Linked DNA regions of Homo sapiens. The protein of the gene in region 2 interacts with the protein of the main gene of each other region in a pairwise test. Each region holds a gene or a part of one and is shown on either strand. Other genes may lie near its edges.

Region 1 (7,024 bases), on a different chromosome or scaffold from region 2:
TCAGATGCCAGAGTAGAAGCAGACTCACTCTATGCAGGACCACGGTGATGGCTTCCATGCTGAGGGACAAGTGGACCCCAAAACTCTGTCCCTTACTGTTGCTCCCGTGATCTCTGATGGGGCTGCCTTTTGCCACCTGGGAATCACTTGCACCCAAGGCTTATGTGCTGTTGCTGAATAGGTTTGTATTCATGGGAATTCAGTGGGACAACATCCAGAGAGGAAACAGGTACATGAGGAAGATTCCACTCCACAAGATACAGAACCCACTTCTCATCCTGTGCTACTGACATTCAGGTTCGAGAATGTATTGTTGCTTCCAAAAGTAACCCTCAAATGTTCGAATCACAAGCAACACATTGCTGCAAGATAAAAGGCACATGTCTGTAAGACAGAGGTTTCGAAGATAGTTACAAAACTGTCCACCAGCTTCTGTCCATAGTGCCTTCCAAAGCTTCATAAAACTGGCCATGAATTATGCAAGACACACGGCAAAACACTTCTTCACAGCATCCCTAGGAAAGAAAAGACACAAAGATGAGTGGAACGTCATCACCCCAAAGGCACTCCTTTAGAGGGCACCCAGAGTGGAAGCTGCAGAGTAGAAAGCACCTAGACTGAAAGATCAGACCTTCACAGCATCAAACTGCAGCTTCAACATTTATTAGTAGTACTATCCTGGGAAAGTTCCTTGTCCTGTTTGAGTTTCAAATTCCTCATCTGTAAGAGGGGATGTCCCCACTTACCCGACAGTCTGATTATGGGATTAGCCATCATAATCAGAGAAAAAGATAACATAGACTGTCAGAAACTAAGAAATCAGTCAGGATTGCTGCACTTTAATATCGGTCAAAATCACAGAATGCACTGACAGCATTAAATCAAATATTAACTGGGACCTTTCTTCATTCTAAGCAGGCAGCAGAAGGGAGCTCACTATGGGTCCTGAGCACTTATTAATATGCTATAATGGCCTTATCACAGGTATTTACTGCTTGGAATTCAGTGTAGAGGGTGCAAGGAAGAGTTGGTCTTCAAGAAATTACTATTCTACCCAAGCAAGCACTTCCATTTCCACCACCACACCACACTGTGCAATGTGGCACTAGGCTTCTCATACCCCAGCTCTGTTCCACGTTCTCAACTGTGCTGCACTAAGGACATTGGGAGTCACATAAGGGAGGGAGAGGTGAATGGATGCATTTCCATGAGTAGGCACTGCATTTTAATATCAAGATGGTTCCAGGGCAGCATTTCTTGAGATATACTCTGCACTGTAGTCTCAGAAGAGTCTCTGCACAAGAAGGGTTTTATGGCCACATAAGTCCCCCTCATGGCAGCTCACAATACACATAGCATATGGAAGGATCTAGCAAGCCAGGCAAAGAGGAACCTACCTAATTTTGCTTAACCTGTTTCTCAAACTTACTTGATCATAGAACTCTTTTCTTCCACAGAAACACTATTTCTGTGGAACACTGTGGGAAAAGCTATTCCAGGGGAACTTACAAATAGAAGGGTGGGGCCAGGCATGGTGGTTCGGACCTGTAAACCCAGCACTTTGGGAGGCCGAGGTGGGCCAATCACTTGAGGTCAGGAGTTCGAGACCAGCCTGGCCAACACGGTGAAACCCCATCTCTACTAAAAATACAAAAAATGAGCCTGGCATGGTGGCGTGCACATGGAGGCTGAGGCAGGAGAACAGCTTGAAGCCAGGAGGTTGGAGACTGAGGTGAGCTGACATCGGGCCACTGCACTCCAGCCTGGGCCATAGAGTGAGACTCCATCTCAAAAAAAAAAAAAAAAAAAAGAATAGAAGGGTGGGATCTAGCTCTGTGATTCCCTCCCTACTAGAGGAGTAATTCGTCTCCTCAGCACATGAAACTCACTATCTCAAATAAAATTCCCTCATTCTATCAATCACTTGTACATAAATTTTATACATGCCAATCCAGATCAAGACTGAAGCTCTGACAAATGACTCCAAGCAAGTTTCACGAATGAGACCTGTGCAACTGCATTGGCCCCATACTCAGAAGGGTCCACATTGGGTTTAATGCCTTGATTTGATGTTGCCATCTTGAAATTCTTAATCTTTTTTTTTGAGACAGAGTCTCCCTCTGTTGCCCAGGCTGGAGGGCAATGGCGTGATCTCGGCTCAGTGCAACCTCCGCCTCCCAGGTTCAAGCGATTCTACTGCCTCAGCCTCCTGAGTAGCTGGGATTACAGGTGCACGCCACCACGCTCGGTTAATTTTGGTATTTTTAGTAAAGACAGGAGTTCACCACGTTGGTCAAGCTGGTCTTGAACTCCTGACCTCGTGATCCGCACACCTCAGCCTCCCAATGTGCTGGGATTATAGGCTGAGCTACCGTGCCCGGCCTATGATTTTTGAACAAGAAGCTCACATTTTTATTTTGCACTGGGCCCTGAAAACTATGCAGCTGGTTCAGGGACCAAAAAATATTCATATGTTGGCAGGTTGATCAATATCTCATTGGATCCTCAGTAATGATGAACTCCGGTTTACTTCACATAAAAATCTAGCTTCCCAGGACATCCCTGCCCATATTCTTCTCAGACAAGCCACCAGGCCCCAAAACCAGCCAGGTCTGCATGGAGTATTTCATAACTGTTACCCTCCTAGAATCTATCAACAAAGCCACTCAGCTGCCTTTCACTTGAAAGGCTTAACTTCGCATCCAATCAATCACTCCTCAATACTTTCAAATCACTGTCAGCAACAGTCTTGGAATTTGTTAAGACATAAGATTGCTCTTCCTCCTTCCCAAGTCATGCATAATTTTTCATTTCCTCAGTACTTTTTTTTTTTTTTTTTTTGAGACAGAGTCTCGCTCTGTCGCCCAGGCTGGAGTGCAGTGGCGCCATCTCGACTCACTGCAAGCTCCGCCTCCTGGGTTCACGCCATTCTCCTGCCTCAGCCTCCCAAGTAGCTTCGACTACAGGCGCCTGCCACCACGCCCAGCTAATATTTTGTATTTTCAGTAGAGACGGGGTTTCACTGTGTTAGCCAGGATGGTCTCGATCTCCTGACAGCAGGATCCACCCGCCTCGGCCTCCCAAAGTGCTGGGATTACAGGCGTGAGCCACTGCACCTGGCCCAGTACAGTTTTTTTAAAAAGCTTGTTTTTAATTAACAGGTAATGATAAAAAAAAAAAAAAAAGAACAGAAGTTAAATAGTTGCATTAGAACAAAGTCAGAGGCAAAGATCATGCGGCTAATTTTGAGAGGTCCGTCACTGAAAGTGCTTAAAGAGGTATGGAGTATTAGAATTTCAGAGCTAAAAGAGGCCTCTGGAGATGATCTAGACCAACTCAGTCTACTTATCGATGCTTTGAGGCCAGAGGGGTCAAGAGAGCTGCTCGAGGTCACACTGCTAATTAGGAAGCCCTGGTACTGCTTACTCTCCCTTTATAAACTCTTGTGAAACCTTCCCAGCAGTGGGATACTGCAAGAAGCACGAATTGAGATCCCTCCATATCTTACTCAGTGATATGAAATGACATTCACCTTTATAAAAAAAAAAAAAAAAAAAACCCTACTCAAAGCTACGGGTTAAAAGAGTAATAATGTGCATATATGCACCATATATAAGAGTAGAATGTTCACAGCATTGGAAATCAGTGTACCTGGGTAAATATCCATCATTAGTTGTATAATTAGAGTGGGTGGTGGGGTGACCTTTAACTTACTTATCTATAAATGAGATGTATAGTATTTGTCTACTTGACTCAAAAGACTTCAGTAAAGATAAATAAAATAGGCTATACTCTCTGAAAGCAGACTCTGAATTAAAATGACAGAAATCATTATTTCCAAATACACAGTCTTACCTTGCAAATGGTATGAAGGAAAGGCTGTACCTATAATGAAAAACAAAACAAAGGGTCAAATGAGATGAAGGGAGTAGCAGATTATCCAGCAGAATGGGCTTCTGAGCTGTAAGAATACCTGCAGTGATCTATCCAGACCCTCTCCCATACTCAGCCTGGGGGATGAGCATGTGCACACAAAGGCCCACGCATGTGCATGCACGTGTACCCAAACACACACACTATGGCCATGTACAGATAGGCAGCCACAGAAGAAGGGCAAAAGGTTCATGTGGAGATAACCCGTATGACCTCGGCCTCAATGCAGTACTGCTATAACCTTGAACTAGCAACAATCACCTTAAACAGTCAGATTTCAAATACCCAGATGGCACAGAAACTCTATTCTGAAAAAATATCAAATAAAACCCAGAACAGTTGAACCGCACCCCCCTCCTTTATTTATTTATTTATTTTTTTTTTTGAGACAGGGTCGTGCTCGTCACCTAGGCTGCTGGAATATAGTGGCTCAATCATAGCTCACTGCAGCCTTGAATTTCTAGGCTCAAGTCTAGGAAGCTCAAGCAATCCCCCTGCCTCAGCCTCCAGAATTGCTGGGACTACAAGTATGTGCCACCATGCCCGGCTAATTTTTTAATGTTTTTTTTTGTTTGTTTGTTTGTTTTTTTGCAGAGACCCGGTCTTGCTACACTGTCCAGGCTAGTCTCAAACTCCTGGCTTCAAGCAATCCTCCCACCTCAGCCTCCCAAAGTCTTGGCATTACAGTGTGAGCCACCCATACCTGGCACAGTTGAACTCCTAACATTTTATAAATTCTAAACAGAATTTAACTTCTACCTAATTGGGATAAATTTTCTGCTCTGCTCCTATTAATTTTAAAAGAAGAGAAAAGAGAATAAAAAAGAAGAAGAAAAAAATGCTACCAACTACTCTATGAGTGAAAATGTAGTACGTCCAAAGGTATCTTGGTAAATTCCAGTTAGCTCAGCCCTGTCACTTAGAAGGAAACCATATACAAGGAACAGGCTCCATAATGCTAAAGAACCAGGCACTGTGTGTCAGGCAGACTGTAAGTTAGCCCTTAGAAAAGCAAACACAGTCAGAACACATGAGTGTTGAAGGGAATATCACCATTCAGCTGGACCCATATGAATGCTGAACCTCTGAAACTGGATTCAAAATCAGTCTATAAGCAAAGCAAGGTGTGTGTATATAGGTACCAATTTCTGCCCTGGAAGAAAAATCAAAATATAAACAGTCTACCACTCAAATGTGCATGTCATTTAAAAAAAAAAAAAACATACACACACACACACACATAAACACAAACACCAGCATCCTTCTCCATATCTTATACTTAACATGTACAGAAGCTCAATTACTTGTCAACACAGTAAATTCCAAAAGGCAATTTGTAACTATATTTATTCAAAAGTCCAAAATTGCTAAAGGGAGGGATGGGAGTTAAGCTTACAGTCTCAAGATTCATTTCTACCAAATAGGAGTTAACCAATTCTTCAGAACTTTAAAATGTCCACAATCCTCCTTTCTTTACACTGTAGCAAACATTTTTTTCAAAAATAGGTGAGTCACATCTATACTGAAACTGTTCTGGCAGATACCATCCCTTGATAAACTTTGAAAGAACTACAGAAATGTCTTGGAACCTACAGATTCCAACTATGCCACCACCCCTCTCACTCTGAGGTCGTATAGGCTTGAAAGGACCATGAACCTACAGCCCCACTCATGGTTTCCCAAAATGTCTCCAGCGGCCCTTTTACTATACTTGGCTCTGGAGTTACAATTTCCTACTCTTCAGCTGAATTACCAAAAGCCAACAAGCCTCTGAGCACATACGCTGATCCTACAGCCCACAGACACACGTTTTTCCATTTCGTCAGTGACTGTTCCTCATCTCCTGCTGACAGTTCACTCTTTGTCCTTCTGTTAAATGATTCATTCTATCACAAATGTAACATTCATTATTTTTCTTACCACTTTCCTTTTTTGTTAACCTCTATTGGACTCACAAGCCTTTTTAACATCCCTTATAATACTTTTGTTGTCCTTGCACTTACCGGACATGAGTGGCTTAATAATATTTGTAACATCTCAAAAATCAACCATTAGTTCAGCAAAAATGCCACAGCAGGCAAACAAGGAGCCTCCTGTGACCACTCAAGACCACTAATGCCATCTATTGGCAGTGGGCTGGGTTGATAGGCATTTGCTCTGGAGCCTGACTTCACTTTCATCATTACGAATCCTTAAATTAAACAGCTTCTGTGTTTTCTTAATTCTCCCACCCACAATATGTGAGTTTTATCTCCTTTGGCTACATTATTCAGTGGGCTATGTGGGAGGGGATTGTTTAAAAGGTTACTTACCACGTCAATGCCAAAGACTGCAAAATGCAGAAGATAAGTGCAAGTCCCTTGTTATGCCACTGGAAAAATAATAATATGGTTATAGGAGAGTGTGAGACAAGGGGCAAAAGCCAAAATGGTTAAGAAAAATTAAAATATACATTTACCCAAAAGGCAGAACACAGGGTAAGTGCAAAACACAACTAAAGGAAGAAAGGAAACATTAATTAATGACAATAACATGGCAGGAAAAAAAAAACTCAAAACTTGTTATTCTTCACAAATGCACAAAACTTATGCATCCTTCATCTCAAAGCAGTTAACCCACCTGAGCACCCATATTTGGCAGAATAGTTAAAAATCTCCATGAAATCAAACTAGCCAATAAAGATTCACATAGATAAGATGTTCTTTTACTTTCAAGTTTTCCCAGAACCTCTGCCCAGCAAACAAATCACATTTCAGGCCCACCCATTCATCCGTCCATCCATCTTTTCATTCAAATGCACTAAAGTAAGCTTAACACAAATCTTTCTATTTTAACTCCTACCAAATGCTAGTCTCTGCAGCAGAAAGCACATGTGAGGACAAAGGTTAACCTGAGATATCAATCTCACAGTCAGCATGCCAGTTACTTGTGTACCTATCACCTAACACTTTCCCTAAGGCCATTCTTAGAAAGCTCTTTCTGCAAGAGACTTGTCCAGGCCGTGGGCATCTGAGGCTGGCCAAGGACAACTGGTGCTAGAGCAGTCAGCCATGCCTTTCTTCGCCATCCTTCTATAACAATAACTACTCAA
Region 2 (7,210 bases):
CCAGTCGGCCTCCTTGGCACCCAGCACGTAACTGATCCCTACTGGGAAGTGAGGCAATCCCTGCTAGACACAAATTTGGTGGGCAAGGGAAGGGGCACAGGGAGGCATCAGAGCTGCTGGGCTCCCGTGGAAAACTTAGACAACCACACAGTCAACACACAGGGGGTCTCACCCTGCCCACAGCAGGTGCACACTGCTTCACAGGCAGGGGGAGCTGGGGAGTGGGCTGGGAGCCGCCCACTCCTCATCCGCCCTGAGGGACGAGGACAGCACAACCGAGTGCCCTGCACCTTTGCCACGAGTGTCAACTTCATTATCACAGGGATGGAATCCTGGCCAGGCCCCACGGCCCACAGGAATGGGGTGCTCCAGGCTCAGAGACCCCCACTCGCCCAGAGCACGCTTGCTATGGAAGTCGAGCCTGTAGACCCTGAGGTGAGTGGGCAGCAGCAGGAGGTGGCCCTCATCTGGCACTTCCCACCACAGGTCAACGCCAAGGGGTGGGGCAGGCACGAGGGGCCCAGAAATACAAGTCCCCAAGCCCAGGCCTGGAAAATACGGTGACCAGGCAGCGTGTGGGGTGCAGGAGAAAGGCCCGCAGGTGACGCCTCTGAGGAGGGCATGGTCCTTGGACCCCACTCAGCCATCTGCACCGGGCCCCTCATGCTCCTTGGTTCGGGTGAATGTCAGTGCTGGTTGGTCCACCCAGAGCCTGAAAGTCAAGGCTCCCAGTGACCCCTTCCCCCAAGACCCGGCCAGGCAGAGCCCCCAGTAGCCACCCGGTACAGAGCCTGGGTCTCAGCACACCTTGCTGCCCAGGGTGCACGCCACGGGCACCTCCTGTCACCCCAACATGCAGGGAGGGCACCACATGCTGGGGTGCTTGGCGCCACCCCCACCCCTACATTTCTGATGTGGCCTTCTGGGTGTTGAGGGGGGGCCTGAAAACTGCATTTCTAACACCGTGTTCTAACCCGAGTTCTCCCTGGGTGCTGATCCCACTTCTGTCACACGGCCTCAGGCTGAGGGGTGGGAAGGCCTCCGGAGCCCCTGTCCATCTCTCAGCACAGCCTGCACTGCCCACAGGCTTCAGCCAGCTGGAAGCTGTGGAGTGTGGCTTCTTTTCTTCTGAGTTTAATTGTCTGCCCCCCCAAACAGGTCAGCAGCCCCAGACAAAGCGAGCTTTTACCAGCCTACTGTGCCCTCTGCAGAGGCCCATTGAGAAGGAAAAAGCCAAGATGGCACAAGGAACGCCCGCAGACATCCCAGACCAAACGTCCAAACAGGCAGGTGCTGCTGCTGTCCTAGAACCTCAGCCCCACGTGGCCACCATGCTCCACTGCGCCTCGGCCCCTCCATGCATCCAGCTCCCAGCCAAGGTGGCTTCCTCATCGCTTCCTTTGAAACCTTCCTGAGCCCCAGGGAAGGGACTCCGCCCGTCTTCCTTAGGGCCTGGCTGGGCTCCAGGCCTGCCTCTGTGTCTCCTGTGGAGCTGCCTTCGGCATTTGGCCTCAGACACACAAGCACACACTGGCACAGGCACACACACACACACGCCAGTCCCCTCACACCACTGATGTCAGGCACCATTCCTGATTTGAACTCACGAGTACTGCCAACTTGCCCACACATTTCCAAAACCTCACAGTTTCACCTTAAGATAGGACATCCTAGGCAGGGTCACCGGCCGGCACTCTTGTGTCTACTTGTGGAGCCCTCCCTGTTGAATGCACAGGTGATCGGGAGATAGGGAAGGAGCCTATGAAGAGAAAGATGGAGCCGGGTGCCCAGGGACAGGCAGAGGCACGGAGATGCACACGGGTGCCGCAGCCCCCGGCCCTTGGAGGGCACGTCCAGCAGGCCACGCTCGCCTCACACCCCCACCAGGCAACCCCACCCGGGAGGACACACTCACTGCTGCAGCTGGCTGTGCCTGCCCCACTCCCCCGGCCCCTCATGCCCACACACGGGTGCACACTCCCACACACACGGGTGCACGCTCCCACACACTTGGGCGCACACTCCCACACACGCCCCTGCACACACCGAGCTGAGTGGTGTGGGCAGGGAGGCACCCCCGCAGCAGGTCAGAGAAAGTACAGGTGAGAAAAATGTCAAAAATGGATTTTCCGGCAACATCCCTATGGCAGCCAGCACAAAAATAGGCACCCGGGAACCCCATGCCACTTCTCTGGACAAGGCCACACAAGGACAGACTCCGGGTCACCTCTGCCTGGGTGGCTGAAGCCCCTGCCCAGGGCACAAACAGCCGCACGCTGGGACAAAGACAGGCACACCTGCTGGCGGCTGAGGAACCACACCCTGTGGGTTGCGGGAGGACAAGGCAGGCTCCTGTGCCGGCAAGGTGGGGTCAACCCCGAAGGTCGAGGACACCAAGACCCGCTCCTCTCCCACAGAGCAACAGGAAGTGCAGGCGGCTAAGGAAAGCCCCACTGGGCAGGGCTCCAGAGCAAACCCGCCAGGCTGGCCCGGGACTGCACAGCCGCCTCTGCCCTGGACAGCTTGCGTGTGGCCCAGCACAGCTCGCTGCACAGCCGCCGGCCACACTGGGAGGGCAGCCACGGACACAGTCCGCCGCCTCCCCACCCTGACCTCCTTCCTGGGGGCAAGAACAGGGCAGACAGATGTGCTACACACCCCTCCCCCAGCCAGGCTGGCAGGTGTTACCTGAGCACTTTGCTGACAGCCTGAAGCACCATTTTGCAGCAGAGTCCACTTTGCAGGGACTGGCCGGGCCGGGCTTGGTCTTCAGGGAGACTGCAGTGGTCTCCCAGCATGAGTGGGCGACGGGAAGGTGGGGAGGAGAAGCGGGGCGGGGTGCCGGCTGGCCAGCACTCGCAAATGCCTGCTGCCGGGCCCTCCAGCCTCACTCCCTGGCCAATGGGACGCCTGGCAGAGACAAACAGCTGCCCCCTTTCCAGAGGCAAGGGCTGGCCAAGGCTGGTGAAACGAGGGAGCGTCTGAATTGGCCTTTTCCAAGTGGCATGGCTGCCAGAAGAGGCGGTGGGGGTGGGACCAGAAGGGAGGGGACAGGGCCGTCCTTGGCCTGCAAGAAGGGTCCATCAGAAAGGTCCTGGGCTCCACCTCAGGCTGCCAGAAGAGGCGGTGGGGGTGGGACCAGAAGGGAGGGGACAGGGCCGTCCTTGGCCTGCAAGAAGGATCCATCAGAAAGGTCCTGGGCTCCACCTCAGGCTGCCAGAAGAGGCGGTGGGGGTGGGACCAGAAGGGAGGGGACAGGGCCGTCCTTGGCCTGCAAGAAGGATCCATCAGAAAGGTCCTGGGCTCCACCTCAAGGTCCTCTGCTGCCAAGCCCCCAGGAAAGGCCTTCTGAACACAGGCAGCAACTCTGCTGACGAGCTCCAGGTCGATGGCACTCCCCTCTCCCTTGTCCGGCCCAGCCTAGCCCAGTCAGTGCTCGGGCCAGGGACGGACAGACGGACAGACAGATGGGCCGCCCTGCCCTGCAGTGTGTACGCAGCTGGAGGCACTCAAAGTGGCTTTCCTGCTGGATGGCCCTGGAGAGAGAAGGGGCCGACCAGCTTCTGCGGTGCCTGGACGGTGCTGGGCTGAGGCTGCTGCCAGCCAGGACCACAGGGCACCCAGCCCAACAGAAATGCCCACAGCAGCTCCCCATGGGGGCGCACAGAGCGGCACGGCCCCGGCCTTCCTTCTGGCTGGTCTGCACACAGGAGACCACCACATCCTGAAAATGCAAACACCTGAGAGGGCAATGCTCTCTCCTCATCCTGAGTCAGCGTGGACCCCACTGGCAGTGACAGCCCCCTGACAACACGGGGTCATCAGGAGCATCCCCCACCCGCATGGGAGCCATACTTCCTGTGCTTCCTGCCAATCAAGAGACCCCAGCATCTCCAGCCACTGCCCCTCAGAAGCTGTCCCAGCACCTCTGTCGGTGTGAAGCCCTGTAGGAGTCAGGACACAGCCTGAGGTACCAGCTGCTGCGGGGAGCACAGAGCCATCAGGAAAGCAGCCAGGGTAGGCTCACCCCCATCAATACCAGCCCCCATGGGAGTTGTGGTGTCTGGACTGCACGCACACACACAGCCTGGGCGCACGGGGAGACAGCACACCAACCCAGCACAGACACACTCTCCAGGAGCCACAGCAGAGGATGGCCCCAGGCCGGCCCCCGCCTCCCTAAGCAGCAGCAGCAGCAGGCCCAACAGGCTGCAGTTTCATTTTCCCCACTAGGCCAGTCCCTAAGCCATGCTCTGAGCAGTGCGTAACTGGTCTCTACAGAACAAACAGCCCGGTGAGGCTCAGGACGTCCATGCGCCCACAGGCCTTCCTCTGCCTTGGCAAGGCCATCCCACAGCCCTGTGGTGCCACACGCACCTAGGCACCGTGCTCACGGCTGCCGGTCTGCCCTCGGGGGCTCCACCAACAGCAGGGACACAGGTGCTGGCAGGTCACCCAAGTGGCAAAGGGAGCCACAGGAAGAGCGGGCTCCAGGCCTGGGGAGGCCCCCGTGAGTAGCAGGGCTGGGACCAGGAGGTGCATGACGCAGACCTGCCCACTCTCGGGAGGCATGGCCTGGACAGAGAAGGCCGTGCAGAGGCCCATGACAGGGAGAATGAGCTGCTGGGGGTTGGAGGGCAGAGCATAAAGGAAGCTGGGGATGGTGGAGGCTTCGGGCACAAGAAGCCAGGCAACCAGGCAAGGCAATGGTGAGGGTGGCACGGGGGCGGGGGAACAGTCAGGACAAGGTGCCGGGTAGGGTGGGGGGAGCACACCAAGCGTGCCTAGTCTGGTCCAGGCAAGGCAGTGGTGAGGGTGGCACGGGGGCGGGGGAACAGTCAAGACAAGGTGCCCGGTAGGGTGGGGGAGCACACCAAGTGTGCCCAGTGGGTCTGGTCAGCACACGGCAGCTCTGTGGCTTATGCCACTGTCCCGAGAGGGCTGGGCTGGCGCCAGAGGAACGTCCACATTCATCTGTGTTTGTTCACTGGGGGACACGTGCAGGGAGCAGGTATTCCTATTGATCAAAACTTAGGTAGTGGGGCAGGAGTGGGGTAGGGTGAGGGGCAGCTGGAACCCACAGACACTGAGCGACAGACACTGCACTGGGAAGAGGAGCAGACCTGGAGCAGGCTCTGCAGACTCCACGAGGAGCTGCCACAGAGGCCCGCAGGCCAGTGACGGGTGCCAGTGTGGCCTGGCCCCGCCACCCCAGAAAAGGAAGAGCAAAAGCACCTTCTGGGCACAGCCAGGGCCAGGAGCTGGCCAGGAACAGAGAGCACAGGAGCGGGGCAGAGGCACCACGCAGGGGGGAACGGTCGCAACCAAGGCGGGACGGGGCAGGGGGCACGGGCCATGTGTCTGTGTCAGAGGTTATTTTACCTTTAATAAGCTTTTAGTTTTAGAAAAGTGTTAGATTTACAAAGAACTGCAAACACAGAATCCCCATGGCCCCCCACTCACTCTTCCTATTGCTAACCCTTACACTAGGATGGTCTGTTTGTTAACAATGAACAAATCCACATTGATGCAGCAAGGTCCAAACTTGACTCAGACGTCTGGATCCATCCATTGCTCTCCTCACGACGAGGCTGGGCTGTGGGTGTGGGTAGGAAGAGCACAGAGGGAAATGTCCCCCTCGTCGCCCCGTGCCCACGGCCCGTCCTGTCAGCACGGCTCATCGCGGGAGGTGCTCCCGATCTCCTGGCTGAGGCTGTGACTGCCAGGCCTCCCCACGCAAAGACGCTCTCGTCTTCCCCGCCCCGCACCGCGCTCTCGAACGAAGCTGCTGCACGCAGACCACACTGAAGGGGTGGGGACCACCCCTTACCACCCTGACGGAGGAGTAGCTACGGGAATTACTGGAAGTTCGGCACCAGAGAGCGGCCTCTTCTTGGTCACTCATTTATATATTCAGCCATTTGTTTATATTGGGATGAAGTCCTGGCTATTGAGGCTGCACTCCGAGCTAGAACACAACACTACTTTGTTTTGTGAATCACACTGTCCGTCCTTGGCCCTGGGGAGCTCCTGCCATCAGCTGCTGGGTCCCCTGATGCACCCCCATCAACAGACTTTTCATTTTGGGGCATGTCCTGATTTCCTGGCACTGCAGGGTGCTCCAGGCTCCCCCTGCATTCCCAGCCCCAGCCCGGGAATCAGCCCCTTCTCCAAGGAGCCCTGGTTCTTTTCATTAGAAAATATTAAAAACTGGCCAGGCAGCCGGGCGTGGTGGCTCACGCCTGTAATCCCAGCACTTTGGGAGGCCAAGACGGGCCTCCCACAAGGTCAGGATCACAAGGTCAGGAGATCGAGACCATCCGAGCTAACACAGTGAAACTCTGTCTCTACTAAAAATACAAAAAAATCAGCCGGGTGTGGTGGCAGGCGCCTGTAGTCCCAGCTACTCGGGAGGCGGAAGCAGGAGAATGGCGTGAACCCGAGAGGCAGAGCTTGCAGTGAGCTGAGATCGCACCACTGCACTCCAGCCTGGGCGACAGAGCAAGACTCCGTCTCAAAAAAAAAAAAAAAAAAAAAAATGGCCAGGCATGGTGGCTCATGCCTGTAATCCCAGTATTTTGGGAGGCCAAGAAGGGACCATCACTTGAGCCCAAGAGTTTGAGACCAGCCTGGGCAATAAAGGGAGACCCCATCTCTACAAAAAATGTAAAAATTAGCCAGGCATAGTGGTGTGTGTCTGTGTTCCCAGCTACATGGGAGGCTGAGGCAGGAGGATCACTTGAGCCCAAGAGATTGAGGCTGCTGTGACCCATAATCACACCACTGCACTCCAGCCTGGGTGACGGAGCGAGACCCTGCCCCAAAACAGTAATGAATGAATTCAAAACTGAGACCTGGTCAGGCACGTTGATTCACATCTGGAATCTCAAGAGCACTTTGAGAGGCCCAGGTAAGTGAATCGCTTGAGGCCAGGAGTTTCAGATCAGCCTGGGCAACACAGCAAGACCCCCATTTCTAAAACAATTTTTTTTTTTTAATTATCTGGGCATAGTGGCATGTGCCTGTGGTTTCAACAACTGAGGAGCTGAAGTGAGAGGATCACTTGAGCCCAGGAGGTTGGTGGCTGCAGTGAACCATGACTACACCACCTCACTCCAGCCTGGGTCTACACAAACGAGAAACGAAAACACTAAGATCAGAGCACTGGGTGGGCTCGTTGCTAGTGGGTGTCACTGCTTCCAGGCCCTCT
Region 3 (7,024 bases), on a different chromosome or scaffold from region 2:
CAAGGCTAGAACTAGAATAAAAGGACTTCATTATTAGGTATTACAGTCTTGGGAAATGTTTAAGAGTTCCATAAAACCCTATGGGAAAGGTAAATAATCATGTTCCTACCACAATCCCCTCCCTCAAGTCAGGTGCTCTTGAAGCTGTGCTTTGATGCAGCATTCTCTTTATACAACAACCTCGGTGGTTCTAGGCTTCATCAAAGAAAAGGATTTTAGTGGATTTACTTTTCTCTTTATCTCTCTGGCTGATGGTATCTTTACTTTTTCTGTTTAATTTCACAAAATGGAAGCAAGAGACAATTTATCACCAGCACTGCACTCCAGGTTGGGAGTGAGAAGCACAGAAGAGGTGCTTCCAAGAGGCTACTAGAGGCAACAGAAACACTTTCTTACAAAAGCTCAGAGTGCTAAAGCTGGATAAACATAAATAGACAGCAAATAAAAGTTCATTGCTCCTGTCCAGCATCACGGCAACAATTCCGGTTCCTGTGGCCCCCTAATATGCTTCGTGTCTTACATCACTATGTGATAATACCCGCCTGAGGCTTCTCGGCCTGAAACACTCCTCCTCACCCTTCAAGTCTAAGCTCAAACACTCACACATCCTTGGAAAGCTTCTCTCACTATCCCAAGTAGGTGCCCCTCTCCCTTAGGTGTGCCTCTCACTGCTCTTTCATGACAGCTGCTATGCCTGATTGCAGCTATTTCTACCCCTGTGAATGTAGCTCTCCAGTCACCTGCCCAGCTTCTGAGGGAGCACCATGTCTTTCCCTTTCCATATCTCCTGGCACACGGTATGTACTTTATGTACAATTCACAGTGAAAGAACTGCCTAGGTTCTTTCACTAGAGAGACCCATCCATGCAAGTCTCTCCTTCCCAATCTCACCTAGTTTAGAACTTCATTATTATCACCTAGATTATTTGTCTCTTCACTGGTCTTCCCATTTCTGGACTCTCTTTCCTTGAATTCACTCCATATACACTACTGCCACTTACAACTCTAAGTAATTAATGTACCAAGTTGAACAGGTGGTGAAGTAGAGAATGAAAAGCTGGAAAACATCAATTCTCTAAGTTCAAAGGGTTCAAATCCAACAGAGCAGAAAGAGAAGTAGATAATTAACAGAACTTACCAGGTGCTGTACAGATACACCCAATTTATGCTAATCCCTCTGCGTGGCATGTCCTTCACTCTGAAATGCTCAATTCATATTTCACTTCATATAGGAAGCTTTCCTAATCTCTACAGCCAGAAGCAATCTCTCTTTCCTCTGCTCCCACAGTACCCTGTTACTCCGTTGTCACTTTCTGTTTGAATTACAGTCATTTGTACCCATACATTATACCTCTTACTGGACTGAACTTTTCTAAATGGAGGGCCAAACATCTATTTGTCTCTATTTTGCCATGGTACCTAACACAGTGCCCTGCAAATAGCTGATAAATAATGAATTATGATGATTAACCTCACTAAAATATTATGAGTCTGTGATTCCTTTAGGATTTGCCAGTATCAAGAATATCAATGGGTCATATACATGCAATTCAGTACTAAAATTTTCCACTCTAGCCACAAAAATAGAAAAAGTCTATTCTGTTTGTCTAGATAAGAGTCGACATATGGAGAACATCCTCAACCAGATCTGAAAATGTTCAAATGAAATGGATCGCTGTTGTGAAAAACACAACAAAGGGCAACTCCCTAGTACTACAATAAACTGAGCAACCAGCCTCTGCTGCCAAATACAGAAAAGTCGTAAGGGGCAAACACGGTGTGGTATTTCCACAATGGGAGCAGGTCAGTGGGTAGACACTTAACTAAGTAAAAATGAACACTGCTAGTAAAAATTAATTTAATAAAACAGACACTAGTACAAGATAGTATGTCAAAAATGGATCATTGAATAAGCTGTCTGAGCTCTCAAACATTATCACTTTCCAGAAGTGAATACTACTTGCAGCTTATCCATTCTTTTAAGGATCATATTCAATTTTCTACAAAAGTGCTTTTGTAGGCCGGGCATGGTGGCTCATGCCTGTAATCCCAGCACTTTGGGAGGCCGAGGCAGGCGGATCACGAGGTCAGGAGATTGAGACCATCCTGGCTAACACGGTGAAACCCCATCTCTACTAAAAATACAAAAAATTAGCCAGGTGTGGTGGCAGGCACCTGTAGTCCCAGCTACTCGGGAGGCTGAGGCAGGAGAATGGCGTGAACCCGGGAGGCAGAGCTTGCAGTGAGCTGAGATCGCGCCACTGCACTCCAGCCTGGGTGACACAGCGAGACTCCGTCTCAAAAAAAAAAGTGCTACTGTAAGATACCTCAGCAAGCCCTTGTTAGGATTCCCAATTCCTTAATTTCACTGTTTATGTCTGTCCTCCCTTCACCCTATTCCTTTATCATAATTGTTTTAGTTAGAATGTAAGCAATTGAGTGCACAATGAGATAGACAATAACTTAAGAATTAAGGACTTTAACATTTCATGATTTAAAATGCAGAACTAAAATTCCAGGTTCTCAATTCTCACAAAACAAAACAAAGCTCAAGGCTTAAAACTTTAGAAAATGCCATGCTATAATGATATTTACCCACTCCTAATTGGCTTAAATGAAGTCAGAACATTTGATTATATCATTTATTTCAGCACTGTAATTGCTAAGGGCAAAAACCTTGTCTCATCAACTAATTTTGTAGAGGCCTTAGTGAACGATTTGCTTGTAGCAGCTTTTACTCTACAAGGAAGACCAGTGTGTTAAATAAAGTGTTTATATTAGAGTCGAAAGACCTAAGTTTAAATTCAGGCTCTGTCTCTTATTTTGAGATCTCAGACAAGTCACTTTAATCTGAGTTCCTCTCTTTACCTGAAAATAGGTGTAATAGCCATAACCCTCACTGCCTAGACCACATGACTGCTATGAGGATTAAGTAAGGAAATGTGTAAAAACGCTTCATAAAACTATAAAGTGTAATACAAATATAAGGGCTCCTGGTATTATTCTTAAAATAAGTGCTAAGAGTAAATCCCTGTCTATAAGAAATCAGAATACAATTGAATTATTTCTGCATACTTTTCCCAAGAGAATTTATGTCTGACATGCAAAACTGTAAATAACTCCTAAAGGGGAAATTACCAAAAAAGGAAGGGAAAAAAGAGAAGAAAGAAAACTTGGGGTGGGACTAGAAGAGGGAGGTAAATTAAAGAGAAAAGGAGAAGTTTTTGTAGTAAAATAATGCAATGTAAGAGAGAGCAAACCTGATCTGAAGAAGCAATTTCTTTTTTTTTTTTTTTTTTTTGAGACAGAGTCTCACTGTCACCCAGGCTGGGCTACAGTGAAGTGGTCTCAGCTCACTGCAAGCTCCACCTCCCGGGTTGACGCCATTCTCCTGCCTCAGCCTCCTGAGCAGCTGGGACTACAGGTGCCCGCCACCACGCCCGGCTATTTTTTTTATTTTTAGTAGAGACGAGGTTTGGCCATGTTAGCCAGGATGGTCTCAATCTCCTGACCTCGTGATCTGCCCACCTCGGCCTCCCAAAGTGCTGGGATTACAGGCGTGAGTCACCGCGCCCGGCCTGAAGGAGCAATTTCTAACTCTACCACTTACTATCTACCTGTGTGTCCCTGGGCAAGTCACTTCACCTCTCTAAGCTCCAATTTCCTCATTTGTAGGTAGAGATAATAACTCACAAGATTGCTATAAGGATTAAATGAGATAATATATATAAAGTACTTAGCACTATGTCTGGTGCATAGTAAGGGATAAGTGGTTACTGGCATTGATAAAATTATCAGACCTGTGCCCTAATGGGTGACATTCAGAAAGAAAAAGGAATCAAGAACATTTAAGAGGGAAAGATGATGTTCAGGGAGCTAAATCTATATATTACCACTGGGAGACAAACTTTGAGAAATATAAATTACACAAAGTATGCTTCATATTAAATGTTCAGATTACTTACTGTGTCTCTTGAATTGGTGAGGAATCAAGAGAAATGCAGTCAAAATCTCCAGATCATAAAAGCAGAATAGCAATAACCGTATTCATAAAAGCAGAATAGCAATAACCGTATTCATAAAAGCAGAATAGCAATGGGAGAACTTGGCCCCCTGAAAAGTAGGCATTAATGTGTGCAGAAGCTTCTCTGTCCCAAACTCAATTTTCTAAACTTTCACAGACAGAATGAAAGCTAGACTCCATAGCAAAGGTACAGCAACCCCGAATGCCTGGGTTAGCTATCATGCCCTCATGTTAGTTTCTGCCATCTTGTTCTTTATTCTGGGTGTATCTGTAGCTGATTTGAGGTGTTAAACATTATTAACTCCACCCTATTCAGGAACTGCAAAAGCAGTAAAAGTGTCCCAGGAATCAGGAAAACGAGGAATAAAATCTCCTGAATCAGCTGGAGAGATAGTAAATAACTCAAAGAGGTAAGAAAACAATGGATGCTATCTGTGCATACGGGATCAGAGATTTATCTATTATAACATGTAGAAATTCTATACCTGTGGAATCAACGAGAATCAGCAAAAGGCAAGGAAAACAGGAAGCCTTCTGTATAAATGGCCAGAGAATCAACAATTTGGGTTACCAACTGATCTGGTGTTAATTAAGGGGAAGGTAAAGAGCTTGTTAAGAATTTAAAAGCTAAGCATAGGCCAGGCGCAGTGGCTCACGCCTGTAATCCCAGCACTTTGGGAGGCCGAGGCGGGCGGATCACCTGAGGTCGGGAGTTCGAGACCAGCCTGACCAACATGGTGAAACCCCATCTCTACTAAAAATACAAAACTTAGCCAGGCATGGTGGTGCGTGCCTGTAATCCCAGATATTTGGGAGGCTGAGGCAAGAGAATCACTTGAACCCAGGAGGCGGGGGTTGCAGTGAACCAAAATCATGCATTGCGCTCCAGCCTTGGCAACAAGAGTGAAACTCTGTCTCAAAAATAAATAAATAAATAAATAAAAGCTAAGCATAGTAGAAGTGTTATCACATACCACAGACAATTGCCAAGGCTCCAGGCCTGTTTGGAATTTATACAATATGACTGTGAATGATCAGGTCACCACATGACCTGTAACTGTTAAGGTCTTCCCTAAGATCTGTGCAGAGCTCATCTAAGAGGCAGGCTACCTGCCTCAGCAGACGTTCAATGCAGATAAGCTGTTCCTGGTGGGAAAAGATGCCCCCAAAACTTGAATCAGCAAGGAGGTAACAGTATGACTGGTTTTCTTTTGATAGACCTACTCACACACCTTTTTACTAAGACAATCTTCCCAAACCACCTGTACTTAGAAGAACTTGGAAACTTTTTATAACAAAGCGAAGTCCACATCTAAGTATCTCCATGAAATGATGGGCTAAAGATCTGCCAATCAGGGCATGGTAAATGGAAATGATATACCATCACTATTAATTTAAGGTATGTTTCAAAAAAAAACTTTTTAAAATTTGTTTTGCCATCTCTGTCTTATTTCAATAATATAAACACACGTGCTTTAAATCCTGGCTTTAGTTCTGCTACTCTTCCCATTAGGTTTTAAGCTCATCAACCATCAACTGTCCTAGTATAGGTGTCTTCTAGAACCTACCCCATTGAGTCAAGTGGAGAATACTTATATTCGTTCACAGAGACTATGACTCTGGAGCTGTACTTAAACTATGAGTACGGTCAACTGCAGGCACTGACAAAGAAGCTGAAGAGTCTGGATCCTGCTGGACAGTTAGGAAAAGGCAGGCAATACCTCTCCCACCGCTCACCTGCTGTATTCCCTGCCTAGGTATACTTTTTTTCTAACCTTTAAATCCAATTGAATTTGTGATTCCAATTCTTAAACAATAACAAATGTGGACTATTCCTGAAACTTCATAAATAAAATCAGGTGGACATTTACAGTACTGAGTAGGCCTATACAAGACACTGTGCACTTCTATAGCACCCTTTATTTCACAAACCCAAAGAACTGTCAAAGTTGCCCCAACATAAAGTATCAGTGATGGAACTTCTCTCATTTTTACATGTACAACACTCTATTCACCCTGTTTCTGCCATTATAAGCATAGCTATTCATGAAAATAAACTAAAAGGGCTGAGACCAACATTCAATCATTAACTAAATTTCAACTTCATAATTCAACCCAAAAACTATCCAGTGCCAAGTGGTTTAAAAAATTATAGAACAGGGCTGGGCACATTGGCTCACACCTGTAATCCCAACATTTGGGAGGCCAAGGCAGGAGGATCACTTGAGCCAAGGAGTTCGAGACCAGGCTGGGCAACATAGTGAAACCCTGTCTCTACAAAAAATTTAAAAATCAGTCGGGCGTGCTTGTGCACACCTGTAGTCCGAGCTACTCAGGAGGCTGAGGTGGGAGGATCGCTTGAGCCTGAGAGGCAGAGGTTGCAATGAGCCATGATTGCACTACTGCACTCCAGCCTAAAAGACAGACTTAAACTCTGTCAAAAAAAAAAAAAAAAAAAATTACAGAACAAAGCCAAACACAGTGGCTCAGGCCTATAGTTCCTGCAACTTAGGAGGCAAGAAGATCATCTGAGCCCAGAAGTTCGAGTCCAGGCTGGGCAAGACAGTGAGGTTCTTTCTTTAAAAAAAATAAATTACAGGACAAAATATACAAAGACGCAAACATTCCATTAAGCAAAAGAGTTAATATGGAATAACTTCTCACTTCTAAGTTCTTATGAGTACTTATAGGTAATAAGTCAAAATTATTAAAAAGTCCCACTCAATAGTTATATTTAATCTGCACCAAGAATAACTTCCAAAAATGGATTAAAATAACATGTCAAAAATAACTCATTTACTTGGGTGTTATTTTGGAACTCTTTCTAGAAAACTGACCCCAAAATTTAGATGTCAGAAGAATGTATTTCCCAAGTCAAGTTTTTGAAACTACAGATCTGAGGAAGACCATCATGAACAGGAGAGAAAATATGGATTGCAGTTAAGCATGCCATATGGGTACAAGCCAGAATGCCTGGGTCAGAATCCTGGTCCTACCACT

What was found. Proteins that work in one complex are often made in the same cells at the same time.
Region 1: the proteins of MOB2 (region 2) and SFT2D2 interact in binary tests that used the Homo sapiens proteins (3 or more experiments, as listed by UniProt).
Region 3: the proteins of MOB2 (region 2) and STK38L interact in binary tests that used the Homo sapiens proteins (3 or more experiments, as listed by UniProt).

Annotation. Positions count from the first base shown.
Region 1 is NC_000001.11:168,235,992-168,243,015, reverse strand, and holds part of SFT2D2 (vesicle transport protein SFT2B), read right to left. Parts: intron 6,428-7,024; coding exon 6,392-6,427; intron 6,305-6,391; coding exon 6,246-6,304; intron 3,886-6,245; coding exon 3,856-3,885; intron 516-3,855; coding exon 476-515; 3' UTR 1-475. UniProt on the Homo sapiens protein: May be involved in fusion of retrograde transport vesicles derived from an endocytic compartment with the Golgi complex.
Region 2 is NC_000011.10:1,483,759-1,490,968, forward strand, and holds the start of MOB2 (MOB kinase activator 2), read right to left. Parts: upstream 3,022-7,210; 5' UTR 2,799-3,021; coding exon 2,689-2,798; intron 1-2,688. UniProt on the Homo sapiens protein: Stimulates the autophosphorylation and kinase activity of STK38 and STK38L.
Region 3 is NC_000012.12:27,247,274-27,254,297, reverse strand, and holds part of STK38L (serine/threonine-protein kinase 38-like), read right to left. Parts: intron 1-7,024. UniProt on the Homo sapiens protein: Involved in the regulation of structural processes in differentiating and mature neuronal cells.